Linked DNA regions of Homo sapiens: region 2 is linked to region 1. Evidence: fine-mapped expression QTL. Tissue or cell type: cerebellar hemisphere. Region 1 holds a variant in brackets; the other region holds the start of a gene. All regions are shown on one strand. Distances are between the middles of the regions.

What was found. PIP is the estimated chance that this variant, and not a neighbour inherited with it, causes the effect.
Region 2: RNF17 starts here. The variant in region 1 is fine-mapped to the expression of RNF17 in cerebellar hemisphere (GTEx, PIP above 0.99).

Annotation. Positions count from the first base shown.
Region 1 is chr13:24,089,169-24,097,434 of GRCh38, forward strand. It overlaps a transcript of SPATA13 not described here. Among named protein-coding and RNA genes, the nearest start is that of SPATA13, 67 kb to the right of the region's middle. The variant G/C (reference allele first, on the strand shown) is at 3,564.
Region 2 is chr13:24,760,664-24,768,663 of GRCh38, forward strand. RNF17 (ring finger protein 17) reads left to right here and starts at 3,506. Exons shown (of 36, transcript NM_031277.3): 1 at 3,506-3,670; 2 at 6,609-6,703. The coding sequence starts at 3,541.

The DNA.
Region 1 (8,266 bases):
TAGTGCCTTCCTGGTGTCTTGCATTTCCCCTGTGTCTCACATGATTTTTGAATGCCCATGCCGGCCAGCCTCTGCTTCATGGTTTGCTGTTCGTATGGTCATAACCCATGAGCAGTGCTATGACCATATTTGCATGGGACCCCCCCACACACCACTCGGACCACATTCTCACAACAGCTCGGTTGTGGCAAAAACAAAAAGGAGATAAAGATATTTCCGTTTTCACTGCTGTGGACGCTAAGGACCAGAGGGGCACAAGATTGGTCTATTATTGTCTTTTAGTAGGCAGAAGAGTCTAGACTGAAAGACAGTTCTCCCGGTTCTGTATCTGATGGAGTCTCTATACAATATGCAATATTACAAAACCCCTCTGGGCTAGGGCAATCAGTTAGTGTTGTGGTAGAATTTGCATAGTATAAATGTACCTTTTAATGAAATAACCACAAATCACCAAAACGCCAAATAATTTTTAATATCAGTGCAGTCCATGCGATATTTGAATATAGTTGTCCTACAGGAAGTATTTGTCATTTATCTGAAATTCAAATTTCACTGGGTGCTTTACCCATTTCTGCTGCCATAACAAAATCCACAGACTGAGGGGGTAACTTATAAACAACAGAAATGTGTTTCTTGTGGTTCTCGAGATTGGAAGTCCAAGATCAGAGCACCAGCAGGTTTGGTGTTTGGTGAGGGCCCAGTCTCCACTTCCAAGATGATGTCCTGCCGCTCTGTCCTCTGGAGGGGCCAAACGCTGTGTTTTCACATGGCATGGACTTGTCCCCTCAAACCCTTTTATAAGGTCTCTCATCCTGTTTATGAGGGCTCTGCCTTCAGGACCTAATCACCTCCTAAAGGCCCCACCCCTGAATACCATATCAAGTTGGTGATTAAGTTTCAACACAAGAATTTTGGGAAAGCTTCAGACTATAGCACTGGACTTCCTTTATTTTTTTTTCTTCTAAATCTGGCAAGTGTAATTCTTCTGACATTGGTCAGATTTCCCCCCAGTTCTCTGCACTTGGACATCCCCCTTATGGACTTTCCTCTGCTTTGCATGATAAACTCACATGTGTTGACTTCTCTGCTCTGCTGTGGCCAGGGTCTTACTCATGCTGCTTGCTGTGAACAGGGTTTGGTGTTAATGGAGCTTCCCCTTTCATAGCTCCAGCCCATCCCTGTCCATCCAACCTGTACATTTAACCACTTACTTGGCATCTCCTTCTAGATGCCCCGCAAACACCTCAAACACAACCATCTAAGGTTAACTATCTTCCCCACAAACATGAGCTCCTCCTGACCGTCCCCTCACCGAACGGTGTCCTCACCTGAGCTTTGACCTCGCCCTCTTTTTTCCCATGCTCCCCCATCCAATCCACCACGTCCTACAGACTACTGAGCATGGTTCTTTCCATTCTGTTTCTCCCATCCCACTGTCCCTACCCCACTTAGAGTTACCACAGCTTCTTGACTGGACTGCCCCAACTTACTGATGTTCCCTATTTGATAAGACATCATCCTTTCACTTTCTTCTAATTCTTTAGACATGACCTCCTCCAGTGATTTGAACATATTTATAATAGCTGACTTAAAAACTTAAATCCAACATCTGGGCCCCTTGGACAGTTTCTATTGACTGCTTTATTTCCTGTGTGCATGGAACTAAACTTTCCTGTTTCTTTTCATGTCTCACATCTTCTGTTGAAAACTGGATGTTTCAAATATTAAATATCCAGATTCCCTCCTCTCTCGGATTTTTGTTGCTGATGATGCTGTTTGCCTGTTTAGTGACTTCTGGTCTGATTCTATAAAGTCTGCCTTTTTTGTCATTTGTAGCTCCCGAAGTCTCTGCTTAGTTAGCCTAGTGGTTGCCTAATGATGGGAGAGAGACTTCCTTACATGCATTGAACTGGTCAGTTTTTCAGCCTTTGCTGAGGGGCTCTGTGTGTGTGTTGGGGCAGACCTTCAGTACTCTAGCACACAGTTCACATCTCTGCCTTACCCTGACCTCTCTGCTAGGAATGGGCCTTAAGGTCAGCAAGAGGCGAGAGACTAAATCCTTCTAAGATCTTGCTTGGGCATACACACAGCCGTGCACATGGGTGTGGCCTTCCTGGTTCTCAATAATATGTCATAGCTTTACAAACCCCTTATGGACATCTCATTCCCTAGTATTTCCTTTTAAGCTTTTTGGTCAGCCTCTTGTTAGCCCCATCTGGTATCACCACTTCAAAACGCTGCTGTGTTAAACAATTGCCATTAATAGTGTTTGACAAATGCCTTTGAGATACGGCTGTTAGAACAGAATATTCTCTGAGTAAGGTCAAATGAAGACAAGCTCTAAGAATTGAGCTTTTCAGGCTGGATGCAATGGCTCATGCCTGTAATCCTAACCCTTTGGGAGGCCAAGGCAGGTGGATCACTTAATGGTCAGGAGTCTGAGACCAGTTTGGCCAACATGGTGAAACCTCGTTTCTACTAAAAATACACAAAGTAGCTAAGCGTGGTGGTGTGCACCTGTAATCCCAGGTACTAAGGAGGCTGAGGCAGGAGAATCGCTTGAACCTGGGAGGCGGAGGCTGCAGTGAGTGGAGATCATGCCCTTGGGTGACAGAGGGAGACTCCATCTCAAAAAAAGAATTGAGTATTTTGGGGAACAGCCAGGCAAGTTAAATAAGGGCAGTTTTCTGGGGATGGCTTTAGGGGAGCTCTAGGCTTATTCTGCCCCTCTCATGGCTGCTAGGCTGCTGTTCTCAGGCTTTCACAGGTCTAAGGCTACCATGGAGCTGGAGAGAGGGGAGATGGGAGCAGGGCAGGTTGAAATGCCACAAAATCACCGTTCTTCCTGACGGTTAGTCATAGTCTTTGACTAAACACTTTACTCCTTGGATTGTTACAAGCCTTTGGTGAATTTGCAGTATTTTGAAAAACTTGTTTTGGCCATTTTTGCCAGTTTTCTCATTGCTTTTATGGAAGAACAGGTTTAGGGAGGTACTTATTCTTCTATTCTGGCAATAACTTCTCCAATGTTGATCTTTTAAAAGTGCTTTTGAGATTGTGTTTTAACCCAAGTTAGGAAACAATGATCATGTGATGTTTTCTGGACATTCCGGCAGCTCTCTAAGGAAGACAATTTTAGGAAGGGTGTGATCAGATAAAACACTAGATATTTATTTTACTTATTTCTCATACCCCATAGTAGGCCTTTATTACTGCCTTGCTCTTGCATAGTTAGTGAATGACTGCAATTGGTATAACTGGAATAAAAAGAGATAATGGTTTATATTTTAGAAGCAGAAGAGTTAATAGGAGCCAGGAGTTTTAAGATAATGGTGATAATGAAGTCACATGGAAACCAATTAAGAGTAAGAGTTTATAAGAAAAACAGTTGAAACCTAAGAGTACTCAAAGGCAATCAGAAAGCCCATTTTAGGGTCTCTTAGAGATGGACTATGTAGAAACTCTATACAAGAGAATATTTTCTGCTGCCCTTTGCCTCTAAAAACATATTGTACTATTGATGTACTGTTTATTCCCTTTCAAACTGCCACATTTGGCAGCTT[G/C]CTATTTCTACATGTTTTAAAGTTGTAGCTTATAAAAAAAGTAGATTTCTTAGCAGTCATATTTGGGCATCTGTATGTGGAGCTTTTATACTCCATAGACTCCACTGTGTGGACTTACTGAAAAGGCTGGTAACAACTAGAAGATTGCCCGAGTAAGCCTGAAACACTGACATTAAGTTGAATGTTTTGGTGTTTGGCATCTTCTCATTAACGTTGCAGATGACTATTTTCTTACACAGAGAATCTGAGAGGATCACCAAAGGCCGTGATGATTAATCTTATTTTCCAGAGCATCCTGGTAAAACAATGGGCACGATCACATTTTGTTAGTAAGGTCACATTTTACTTGAATTGTTTTCCAAAGCCAATAAACAATCCATCCATTTTCCACCTGACCCTAATAAACAGGCCCTATATTTCATAAGGTTAAAAGGTCAGGCTGCCTGAGAGACATCAGTGGGAATCTGCTGTGTCTCTTTGTGCCTGGTTTCAAGCACGTTTTATAAAGGGTGAAAACAAATGTCTTTGAGTTCACTCAAGCTGTTCATCCTTCCTGAATAGAATACAAGTCAGGAAATGCTGAAATTCCTTTTCCAGGCACCAGTATCCCACTGTTCTGTGCCATTAAGCTTGCAAACACTCTATCACCATTTGCCATTTTTAAAAGAGGACGTATGGTTAGTGATCTAGGTTTTCCGAAGGTAAAATGACTTCCTGAAAATTGAGATGGGCCTTAGGTAGAAATGGCCTATTAAATGGTCCCAATACAGATGCAAAGTTCAGGCACGTTTCTGATACACCCCAAAAACAGCTGGAAAGATCAGGCCCAAAATGCTCCATTGAAATCTGATTGGTTTGTTTCTTCTGTGCTAAATGGACCAATTGTGGGGAGAGGCAAAGTCACATAAAGGAAATAGAAGCTTGGCTTGGTGGCTGTGAGGAAACTGCTAGATAGGTTTATTTTAAATATTTTCTATTTATTTTAATGTTACAATTTTATGAAAAGCTTGGTTGCTTTAAGAACCAAAAGGCAGGAAGGGTACAGGGGAAAAGATCTAGGCTGTGGTCATAATACTTAGAGGACTGTGTGTCAAAGCCTGGGTCATGGAACTGTAAGAATCATCTTGGATGCTTGTTGAAAATGTGCCTTCTGGGTGGGGGGACCTGATGCAGCCTCAACTGTAATCAGACTATATACCTCAGGCCTCTCCCCGTCCCGGAGGTTAGATGTCATTGTGCAGTAATGATGCTGTAGGCCATGCCTGGAAGAATGGATGTAAACAGTAGATGTCAGCATGAATGAGTCTCTGGTGCCTGCCTTCTATACCGGAATGTCCTGAACAGCTCTGGAGCAGACCTGGGCTATAAGATTTGGGAGAAGAGCATGAACAGGTTTGTGGGGGGCACATTTTGGGTGTAAAGCCATTATTTCAACATGTCCCAAAGTACTATTTGATGCAGCTTGGCAGCACAAAAATGCCTGTGCACCCGTAGGGAGTGTGATCCTGAGGACTTTGGCGAGAACATCGTGGCCTCACAAATGGGAACTCAGGGTTAACATAGAAAAACCAGGTTTTGACTGCAGCTTTCCACGGGTACATTTAGTGATTCTGAATAAGGATTTCTGCTTGCTCAGGGTTGTGAAAAACGGATCAACATTGTAGGGGAGGATTAGATAACTCGAAAACTGTCCCATCGCAAGATATCTCAGAATGCCAGCACACAGCAGGGCAAGGAAGGCAGAATGGCATCTGCCAAATACTGTGACGGGACAAAGCTAGGAGGTGGGTGCACAGATATTTGCTCTATAGACCTTATTCTTTCTTTATGCTTAAAATGTTTTTAAAAATGTTTTAAAATTTAAAAGCCTAATTGAAGTTAGCTGTGTGTGGTGGTGCACACCTGTAGTTTCAGCTGTTGGGGAGGCTGAGGCAGGAAGATTGCCTGAGCCCAGGAGTTTGAGGTTACAGTAAACTATGATCATACCCTGCAAATAGCCACTGCACTCCAGCCTGGGCAATATAGCAAGACCCTGTGTCTAAAAATTAATATGTAAAATATTTCAGAATAAATAAATAAAATCTACATTGGTGACAGCCTTTTCAAGCTCATTAAGTAAAAACCTCCTTACCACCTTATACCCATTAGGATGGCTACTAAAAGAAAAGAAAATACTAAGTGTTGGTGAGGATGTGGGAAATTGGAACCCTTGTGTGCTATTGGTGGGAATTTGTAAAATGATGTAGCCACTATGTAAAACATGGAGATTTCTCAGAAAGTTAAAAATAGAATCGCCATGTGATCCAGCAATCCCACTTCTGGGTATCTATGTAAAAGAATGAAAAGCAGAGTCTCAAAGAGGCATGTGCACACCCATGTTCACAGCAGTGTTATTCCCAACAGCCAAGAGGCGGAAACAACCCAAGTGTCCATCAGTGGATAAATGGATAAACAAAATGTGGTACACATAGGCAATGAAATATTATTTATTGCATAATTTCACAAAAAGAAGAAAAGCCTGTTACATGCTATAACACAGATGAATGTCAAGGACATTACACTAAGTGAAATAAGCCAGTCACAAAAGGACAAGTACGGTATGATTCCACTTATATGAAGTACTTAGAGTAGTCAAAATCATAGAGATAGGAAATAGAAGGGTGGTTACCCAGGGCTGGGGTAGGGGGTGCAGAATAGGGGAGTTAAATTTAACGGGTACAGAGTTTTAGTTAGGGAAGGTGAAAAGGTACTAGAAGTGGATAGAAGTGCTGGTTACATGAAAGTGGGAATGCACCTGATGCCACGGAGCTATACGTTTAGAAATGGTTATGATGGTAAATATGTATATTTTGCCACAGTTAAAAATAAATATTTTTAAAAAGAAAAACCACCTTAGATAACAGTAAAATGAGACTGGGTATTGAATGAATCTACAGACTTCTCTTCTATGTGGATGCAAAACTCAAAACAGTGGACTTGCAATCTACCCTCGTTTCCCTACAAATTTGGTTCCCTGGGTTAACTTTCCCAACCATCCTGTCCCAAACAAGTGTTGCAATCCCAGCGAAGTGCTTTGGATTGGTTCAGCTGTAAAAACCGTCATTTCTATCTATGAAATGGGTCTTGTTTCTGGTGCCATACCAATAACAGTGCATCTCTCAGACTTCCTTTATCACACCCAGGTTCCTTCAGACGAGAACCTAGATGTTGGGGCTAAATCCAGAGCCCTTTATTCCAGAAGAAATACAGCAAGGTACCTACACCTGCCTCTGAGAGGCTGCCTGGGTCACTTCCCAGCTAAGCCTGGTGGCGTCCTTTATCTCCCAGAGCCCTCACTATCTGCTGCCTCCGTGCATCAGGCCATGCCTTGTTGTGATGCTTTTTTCAGTGACTTTTCATTGGGATCCTACCACCTGCCTGGTGCCTGACTTGTTCTGGAGCTAAACCAAAGAACAAAACAGACATAGCCCATGTTCACGTGGAGCTTATAGTCTCGGGAGGATATCAACATTAAATAAATATATAAAGTTATGGTTAGTGCTGTAAAGAAAAAAGAGTGTTATAATAGAAAATAACAAGGAGGCCTGGGTGCCGTGGCTCACGCCTGTAATCCTAGCACTTTGAGAGGCAGATGCAGGTGGATCACCTGAGGTCAGGGGTTCGAGACCAGCCTGGCCAACATGGCAAAACCCTGTCTCTATTAAAAATACAAAAAAAAATAGCTGGGCGTGGTGGCAGGCACCTGTAATCCAAGCTACTCGGGAGGCTGAGGCAGGAGAATCACTTGAACCCAGAAGGCAGAGGTTGCAGTGAGCCAAGATCGCACCACAGCCTGGGCAGCAGAGTGAGACTCTGTCTAAAAAAAATAATAATAACAAGGGGGACCTAATTTGGACAGGTATGGAGAAGCCATAGAAAGCCACTAGGATGAAGTGAGAAATTCAACTGAGAAATTAGACATGAGGGGGAGTCACCTAAGAACAGAGGGGGGACTGGAAAAGAGCATCCCAAGCAGAGGCTGCCCCAGGGCAGAGCCCTGCAGAAGAGAGCTCAGTGGGCCCAGCCTGGGTAGGAAGTGGAGGTGCAGAGCCGGAAGAATCATGCAGGCCAGATCATTTCAGGCTGTGGAGGCCACACAGAGGACTGTGACCTCTTGCCCAGGTGTAAGGAGATGCTGCTGAGGATTTGAAGCAAGAGCATGACATAGCTAGATTTTCCTTTTAAAAGATCACTCAGGCCCCTTATGTAGAATGGATTAAAAGGGGACAAAAGAGGAGACAAGGAGCCTAGTTAGAGGTGAATGCAGAAATTCGAGGAGAAACAGCGTTGGCCCCGGCTGAAACGGTGCCAGTGGAGTTGAAGTGAAATGGAGATAGAATTAATAGGGCTTCCTGGAGGGATTAAATGCAGAGAGGGAGCTGTCAGTGCACCCGGCATGGGTGGCTGGGTGGGTGTGTGAGGTATTTAATAGTTCTCATGCACTGACAGTTCACTATATGCCAGGCTTTGTGCTAAACATGTTGCATCATCCATTTAGTCCTCTCAGTCAGCCTGTGGGCTGGGTGCTTACAAATGAGAAGCTAAATAATTTCCCCAAGGTCATGCAACTAGTAGGTGACTCAGGAAATTCGCAGCCTGGTCTACTCACTCCAGGACCCAAAGTTCAGGGGAAGACCAGAAAACAAAATTGGCAGAAAAGAGCT
Region 2 (8,000 bases), 670 kb after region 1:
GGAAACAGTCAGCAAAGTAAAGAGCCTATGGAATGGGAGAAAATATTTGCAAACTATACATCTGGTAAGGGGTTAATATCCAAAATACATAAGGAACATAAACAACTCAGTAGGAAGAAAACAACTCAAACAGAAAGTGAGCAAAGGACCTAAATAGACATTTCTCAAAAGATGACATACAAATGGCTAATAGGTATATGAAAGCATGCTCAATGTCACTAATCATCAGGGAAATGCAAATTAAAACCACAATGAGAAATTACAGACGGTATTAGAATGGAGATTATTTAAAAAAAAAGACAAAAGATAACAACTGTTGGCAAGGATATGGAGAAAAGGGAACCCTTATACAGTTAGTGGGAATGTAAATTAGTACAGCCATTATGGGAAACAGTATAAATTATTTGTTGTGTATATTTTCGAGAAGGTAACTGAATGGGTTAACTTAGTTAAATGTTGAAATACGTCTATTCAATAGATTAATTTGGTTTTAGAATATTAAAATTCTGGCTTGGTGTTATTCTATTAATCCCACTCTTATGGTGGGAATAAATATGTTATATGTTTCTATTCAATAATTTGGTTTTAGAATATTAATATTTTGGCTTGGTGTTATTCTATTAATCCCACTCTTATGTTGGGAATAAATATGTTATATGCTTAACAACAACAAAGAAACCTAACTTTGACCATGGATTTGATTTCAGGTGCACAGGGCTAAGGGCAGCCTGCAGGTTAGCTCTGTGACTGCATAGTTCTACATTCTTTCTCTGATCTGCTGCTGCTATTTGATCTCTGAATTTCTCTTTAGTTTTGGTGAAACTTTCTAAAAGACATTCACTGTGGGTCAGATGCAATTTATAAAAATTGTGTATTCAAGAAGGGAGCCCTGTTTATCTCATTTCTCAGCTGTTTAGGAGATGATTTTAGAGCACTAGAAAGGCACTGGTAGAGAGGCAGGCAGAGGGCAAACCTCCAAGGCCATTAAGGTTTTGTTGTAATTCATAGGAAGCCATTAAAGGGTTCCAAACAAAGGATTTAAACAACCTAAATTGAATGTTAAGAAGACATTTCTGGCTGCTCTATTTGAGGGTTCTTGGTAAGTGCTAAGAAATGAACAAATGTGGTATAATCATCTATCAGTGTATTTCTCACTGGCCCTGATTTATCCAAGATTAATTCAATTTCTGGGATTACCAAAGGCATCTCTGATGAAACTCAAGACCCACATTAAATATCCACATTATGGCCCACGATGAACACCTATGCAATGAGATTGTCATTATTCAAATTACAGTACAGCTATCCTAGAGGAAAAAGAGGCTTGCTACATGCTAGAATAGCATTAAGTGTGGAGAGAAATGTGAAGGTTTAAAGGAGAAAGTGCTTCTAAAGCTGATCCAGGAAGGATAAGGAGAATATGGGCCGGACGCGGTGGCTCACGCCTGTAATCCTAGCACTTTGGGAGGCCTAAGGCGGGCAGACTGCCTGAGCTCAGGAGTTTGAGAGCAGCCTGTGCAACACAGTGAAACCCAGTCAATACTAAAATACAAAAAATCAGCTGGGCGTGGTGGCATGCGCCTGTAGTCCCAGTTACTGGGGAGGCTGAGACAGGAGAATTGCTTGAACCCGGAGACCAAGGTTGCAGTGAGCTGAGATCTCGCCATTGCACTCCAGCCTGGGCGACAGAGCAAGACTCCATTTCTAAAAAAAAAAAAAAAAAAAAAAAAGAGAATATGAATTGATGAAGAGTGAACAGTAGGTATTCCAGATGAGGGGAATAGGGAATAATACTCACAAAACTGTAGAAGAGTCAACATGTTACATGAGAATATTGGCTTGATTAGTACTCAGTTCCATCATGGATTAGTAGTGGAAACTATTGGATGAGTAGTAGAATGAGGGTAATTTAGGGAAGCAGTACTTTTCTCTCGAAGACAACAAATTACAAAGATTTTTGAGCCGAAGTGAGCCTTTCAAGAGAATACTTACTTCACAGTTTCTAGTTACCCACACACAGTGTAGAGAGAAAAGAAAATGAGGAATATGGGCAGGCTTTATTCTTAGCAGCAAAAGGCAACCGTGCCACCTCCAGGTGTTTTGTTTGAAATACACCTGCCACCTTTCTACTAGATTACTTCATTCCTTGCTCACAAAACGTCTCATGCACTCTACTGCTTAAAGAGTAAAGTCCAAACTCCTCAGCCTTACACTCGAGATTCTCCGAAATTCTTCCCTGACACACCTCTCCAAAGAAGCTTACTTTAAGGAAACTCATACTCTGGCTAAATGGTCTTTAAATTCTCAAGAAGTCACTGTGTCTTCCATCTACCTTCCCTCACATCTACCTTCCCTCGCTGATGTGTTCTTTATTCTTGGAATCCCTTAGTTCTTGTTTACTCCTGTAAGTACTACCTAGGTTGTAAGGTCTAGTGCAAACCCTATATCCTCTACGAAGAGTTTTCATACCACCGTAGACCATATTGACTTCATTTCTTCATTGCTTTTTGTGAACTATGCTTGGACAAGTTGCTTCAACTCTTTTTTTTTTTTTTTTGAGACGCAGTCTCGCTCTGTCGCCCAGACTGGAGTGCAGTGGTATGATCTCGGCTCACTGCAAGCTCCGCCTCCCAGGTTCACGCCATTCTCCTGCCTCAGCCTCCCAAGTAGCTGGAACTACAGGCGCCCACCGCCACGTCCGGCTAATTTTTTTTTTTTTTTTTTTTTGTATTTTTAGTAGAGACAGGGTTTCACCATGTTAGCCAGGATGGTCTCGATCTCCTGACCTCGTGATCTGCCCGCCCTGGCCTCCCAAAGTGCTGGCATTACAGGCGTGAGCCACCGCGCCGGGCCCAGAAGGCTAATTCTTACTGTCTCTAACACAGGTCCGGTACATAACACTTATTTTGGCGGAAGTTACTGGGTTTTTTTAAGGAGTTATGTATCTCTCAAGCAGAAACCTGCTAGTTCATAAATTCTTAGCATCCCCAACCACTCTTGGCACGCTGCCTTGTATATTATTAGGCTCAACAGCAGTTAGTAATGATGAACACTCCTTAATTCGAAAGCGTTCACTGAATCTACCCCAACGATAGCTTCTCATTAGCTTCTCCACTCCAGCTGCTATTGGCCAAGCCCTGGATGCCCGAAGCACACAGGTTTAGGGCTTCTGGCCCTGACACGTAATAGGGAAAGGGGATTGTTTCAATCCAAATGATTATCTATAAAGTCACTCACAATGTAAGTAATAATATGCGAAATTTTAATTTGTGATGACTAAAAGCACTAAAGTGGTGACTCTTTGGGTAGAACGTAAAAACGAACGGTCCTCAACGGCCACAAGGCGCCCCTTCTAGGAGTGGTACCTCCCAGGATAACGGAAAACAGCCCCAGCCCCATCAGGAGCGAGCTTGGGGGCGGGCTTTAATCTCCCGGCCCACTGTTTGGCTATCTGCAGGGGCTGGCCTCCAATGATTGGTCGCTGCCGCGAGGGCCGCCGGGACTCGCACTCGGCGGTTGTTCCAGAAGAAAGAGACAGCGATGGCGGCAGAGGCTTCGAAGACTGGGCCTTCTAGGTCTTCCTACCAGCGAATGGGGAGGAAGAGTCAGCCCTGGGGTGCCGCTGAAATCCAGTGCACCAGGTGTGGAAGGAGGGTATCCAGATCATCCGGTGAGGAGCCCAAGGGCCCACCTAGCGGGGAGGCAGCCTGGAGGGAGCGCTGGGGGCCAGGTGAGCTGGTGGGCGCGTGAGGCTTGGTCAGCTGCATCCAATCCTGGTGTCACCAGAAACTGCGTCACAGGCCTCCCGCGAGCTGCACCCGACCTCTAAGAGGGCAGTGCTTGGGTTGGTTAAGGGCAGCACCTGCGCCTGTCACGGCTTTCTCCAATTACCCATCCAGGCCTCACCGACCCTCCAGCCGGGAGGATGGGGGCCCGGGTGGCTTTAATCTACTCCTCACAAGGCAGGTTAGCGGGTGCATGCAAAAGTAGACATAAAATGTAGCCCATTGTTTTGTCATCAAGAAGGAACGAAACTTGATTTTCTCCTGTAGTTTTTGTTGTAGGAGTAACAAGTAGACCATTGTGAAATGGTTTTGGATTTTGTTGTTGTTGTTAGCATTTTGTTGTTTCTGTGGGGGTTTTTTTGTTTGTTTTTTACATTATGGCTCACACTGGCCTAAAACACTGTTTGGAAAATGATAGTTTCTTTTGTGCACCTTGTGGGGTGTGTGTGTGTGTGTGTGTGTGTGTGTGTGTGTGTTGGTCTTTATACGTGAGGGGAAAAATACACTGCACTATTATTGGTCTGTTCACCTACAATCTACTCAAGTGATCACAGGTTCAAGTTATTTATTATTATTTTTTTCTTTGAGTTGGAGTCTCGCTCTGTAGCCCAGGCTGGAGTGCAGTGGCGCGATCTCGGCTCACTGCAAGCTCCGCCTCCCAGGTTCACGCCATTCTCCTGTCTCAGCCTCTGGAGTAGCTGGGACTACAGGCGCCCGCCACCACGCCCGGCTAATTTTTTGTATATTTAGTAGAGACAGGGTTTCACCGTGTTAGCCAGGATGGTCTCGATCTCCTGACCTCGTGATCCGCCCGTCTTGGCCTCCCAAAGTGCTGGGATTACAGGCGTGAGCCACCGCGCCCGGCCGGTTCAAGTTATTTTAATGTAACTTAAAATACCTTAGTGTGCTCTTAATACAGCTGAGTTGTTGAATCTCAATTCCTGGAGCTACTGAAAATTCGTATTACCTGGCGTAACTGTTTAATGTTTATACTTTCAAAGTTAAGGTCATTCGATCAGTTTTCTCAGTCTTGGCAAGATGGACTCTGTGAGATGTGAGCCTCTGCAGAAAAAGTTGTGATTTCAGTGGAGAACCAAGTTTCTCCTACTTGGGGTTTAGATCACTGCTACCGTTACGTAGAAAATTTCCATTTTTGAATGAAATTAAAATTACGGAATAAAGTTCTAGAACACAACCTTTTAAAATGAGTACTTCTTCCATACATTAGTATTATAATGCTTAGAAAAACTAAACTGGAGAAGTAGTGGTTATGTATATAGAATCCTGAAAGTGCTTTTTAAGCTGTAATTCACCACAAGTTATTTTGAGTTATTCAGTATCAGAAATTTTATAATAGTTAAGTGTTTTTATTTCTTTGGCAATATTATCCCTGGAAGTTAAATAGGGTTTTAAAATTTAGCATGGTTGTAAGCAAGTTTCAGGTATTTCAGTTGGATAGGAAACTTGTAAAGTTTTTAAAAAATACAATTAATGCAAGGCCGGGCACAGTGGCTCACGCCTATAGTCCCAGCACTTTGGGAGGCCGAGGTGGGCGGATCACTTGAGGTCGGGAGATCAAGACCAGCCTAGGCAACATGGTGAAATCCCATCTCTACTAAAAATACAAAAAAATTAGCTAGGCGTGCTGACGCACACCTGTAATCTCAGCTACTCCGGAGGCCGAGGCAGGAGAATAGCATGAACTCAGGAGGCAGAGTTGGCAGTGAACCGAGATCGTGGTCCGTCTCAGAATGAGTGAATGAATGGATGAATAAATAAATAAATAAAATTAATGCGATTATAATTCAGCAAGAACTCTATAATTATTTTGCTAGTAAAAGATGACTGATTTTTATCTAGTTTTTTTCCCTTTTCAGTTTTCTTGCAAAACTTTAAAAATGACAACCTTTTGAAATTATATAGCTAAAACAAATGTTATTTATTATAAACTTCAAATTCTTAGAGCATTTAATCATGATGTTAGGTTTTCAATCAAGTTACGATATTTCCTTTCATAAATGCTAAGTTTGTGAAAATGTGAGTTGTAGATATGTGATAATAGTAGCATCTGGCTTCTGGCCTTGCCAGTGTCTTAAATAATTCTAACAGCACGGTCTTGCCAGTGTCTCATTTTGGCCCTTCCTGACCTCTTCACAGGATGGGAAATATAAAGTAGTAGAGGGCAGTATGATCAATCAGAAAGAATGTTAGACTTGGAAACAGAGCTAGATAGGAGTCTGGATTATACCATTTAGTTAACCAAATCTCCAAAATGCTATTTCATCTCCAGCCCACTTAACTGTGATATTTACAAATAACAAATAAAATGTGTCAGAGCACTTTGTGTAAGATATGGCAGATTCAAAGTATTCTAGGTACAAAATAGCCATCTGAATTAATGCAAATGCTATTACATAGCTCTTCTTGGTTTTTCTTCTTGATTTTTCTCCCTCCTGACCTGAATAGTTGGTTACTCCTGATTTATATTCAATAAGTCAACCATTTCAAACTGTAGTAGGTATCTTTTCCTGTACAGTAGGATCCTCTTTGAATTTCCCTTGTATCAGTATTGCCCATTCAACATTAACACACTGTGGGCAGTTTAATCACAATAGAATTTCTTCAGTAAAATTAGCCGGGTGTGTTGGGACACACCTATAGTCCCAGCTACTTGGGAGGCTGAGGTAGGAGGATCACTTGAGCCCAAGAGGTGGAGGCTGCAGTGAGCTGGTGCCACTACACTCCAGCTTGGGCAACAGAGCAAGACCCTGTCTCAATAATCATCATCATCATCAAAATAATAATTAAGAATTTCATCAATAGGTCACCATTGTGAACTTCAATGTGGACATGCTTTTTGTGAACTATGCTTGTTAATGACTGAAGAATGCACCACAATTATATGCCCTGATTGTGAGGTAAGTGTTATAATTTTTCAGATGAAACATATCACAACCTAATGTTAATGGTAAAAATACTACAGTAGTAAAACGTACTTCTAGTTAGAAACTAAAAAGTTGGCCGGGCGTGGTGGCTGACGCCTGTAATCCCAGCACTTTTGGAGGCTGAGGCGGGCAGATCACGAGATCAAGAGATCAAGACCACCTTGGCCAACATGGGGAAACCCCGTCTCTACTAAAAATACAAAAATTTGCTGGACCTAGTGGTGCACACCTGTAGTCCCAGCTGCTCGGTAGCCTGAAGCAGGAGAATCGCTTGAACCTGGGAGGTGGAGGCTGCAGTGAGCCAAGATTGCACCACTGCACTCCAGTCTGGCGACAGAGCAAGACTCCATCTCAAAAAAAAAAAAAAAACCCTAAAATCTTGCATTTTTGCTGCTGAATCTTTAAGCAAAGAAACCTAACAAAAGATAAAACTTTTTCTATCCATTTTATAATTGTGTAAAGTGATCAGGAAAAATAAAAGGCGCTAAAGTCATACACTTATCGGCCTACATATTTTGATTCTTTGGTGACTTCTGTGGAAAATTATGTCTTTTGTTTATTTTAATGGTGTATATTCCTTTAAAAACCCTAGCCCCTGTTTTACCCACCAATCCATGCAACCACATTTTGAACTCCCCCCCTGCCCCTCAACCTTTGTGTGTCATCAAATGTACATTTGGGAGATGCCATTCTACAACAAGGTAGAGAAGCAAAACTACTGCCTAAAATTTTTACTTCAGAAGCCATTAAGACTGAAATCTTTCCATAAGAATGAGAACAAATTAAGGATGTAAAATAAAATTTACTTGATATCCTATTCATTTAATACAAATATAAGTGTAGTTCAGCTTATATAATATTGTTCCTGGAAAGTTGACTCAAGCTGTAAATTCCTTTTTTTTTTTTTTTGAGACGGAGTCTCACTGTGTCCCCCAGGCTGGAGTGCAGTGACTCAATCTCAGCTCACTGCAACCTCCGCCTCCCAGGTCCAAGTGATTTTCCTGCCTCAGCCTCCCAAGTAGCTGGGACTGTAGGTCTGTGCCACCACGCCCGACTAATTTTTTGTATTTTTAATAGAGAGGGGGTTTCACCATATTAGCCAGGATGGTCTCGATCTCCTCACCTCGTGATCCGCCCACCTCGGCCTCCCAAAGTGCTGGGATTACAGGCATGAGCCACCGCGCCTGGCCAAGCTGTAAATTCTTGATGTTTTACTGGATAAATCAGATGATAAGGCTTTGTATCATTTGTTTTCTGTGGAAGTGTGGCA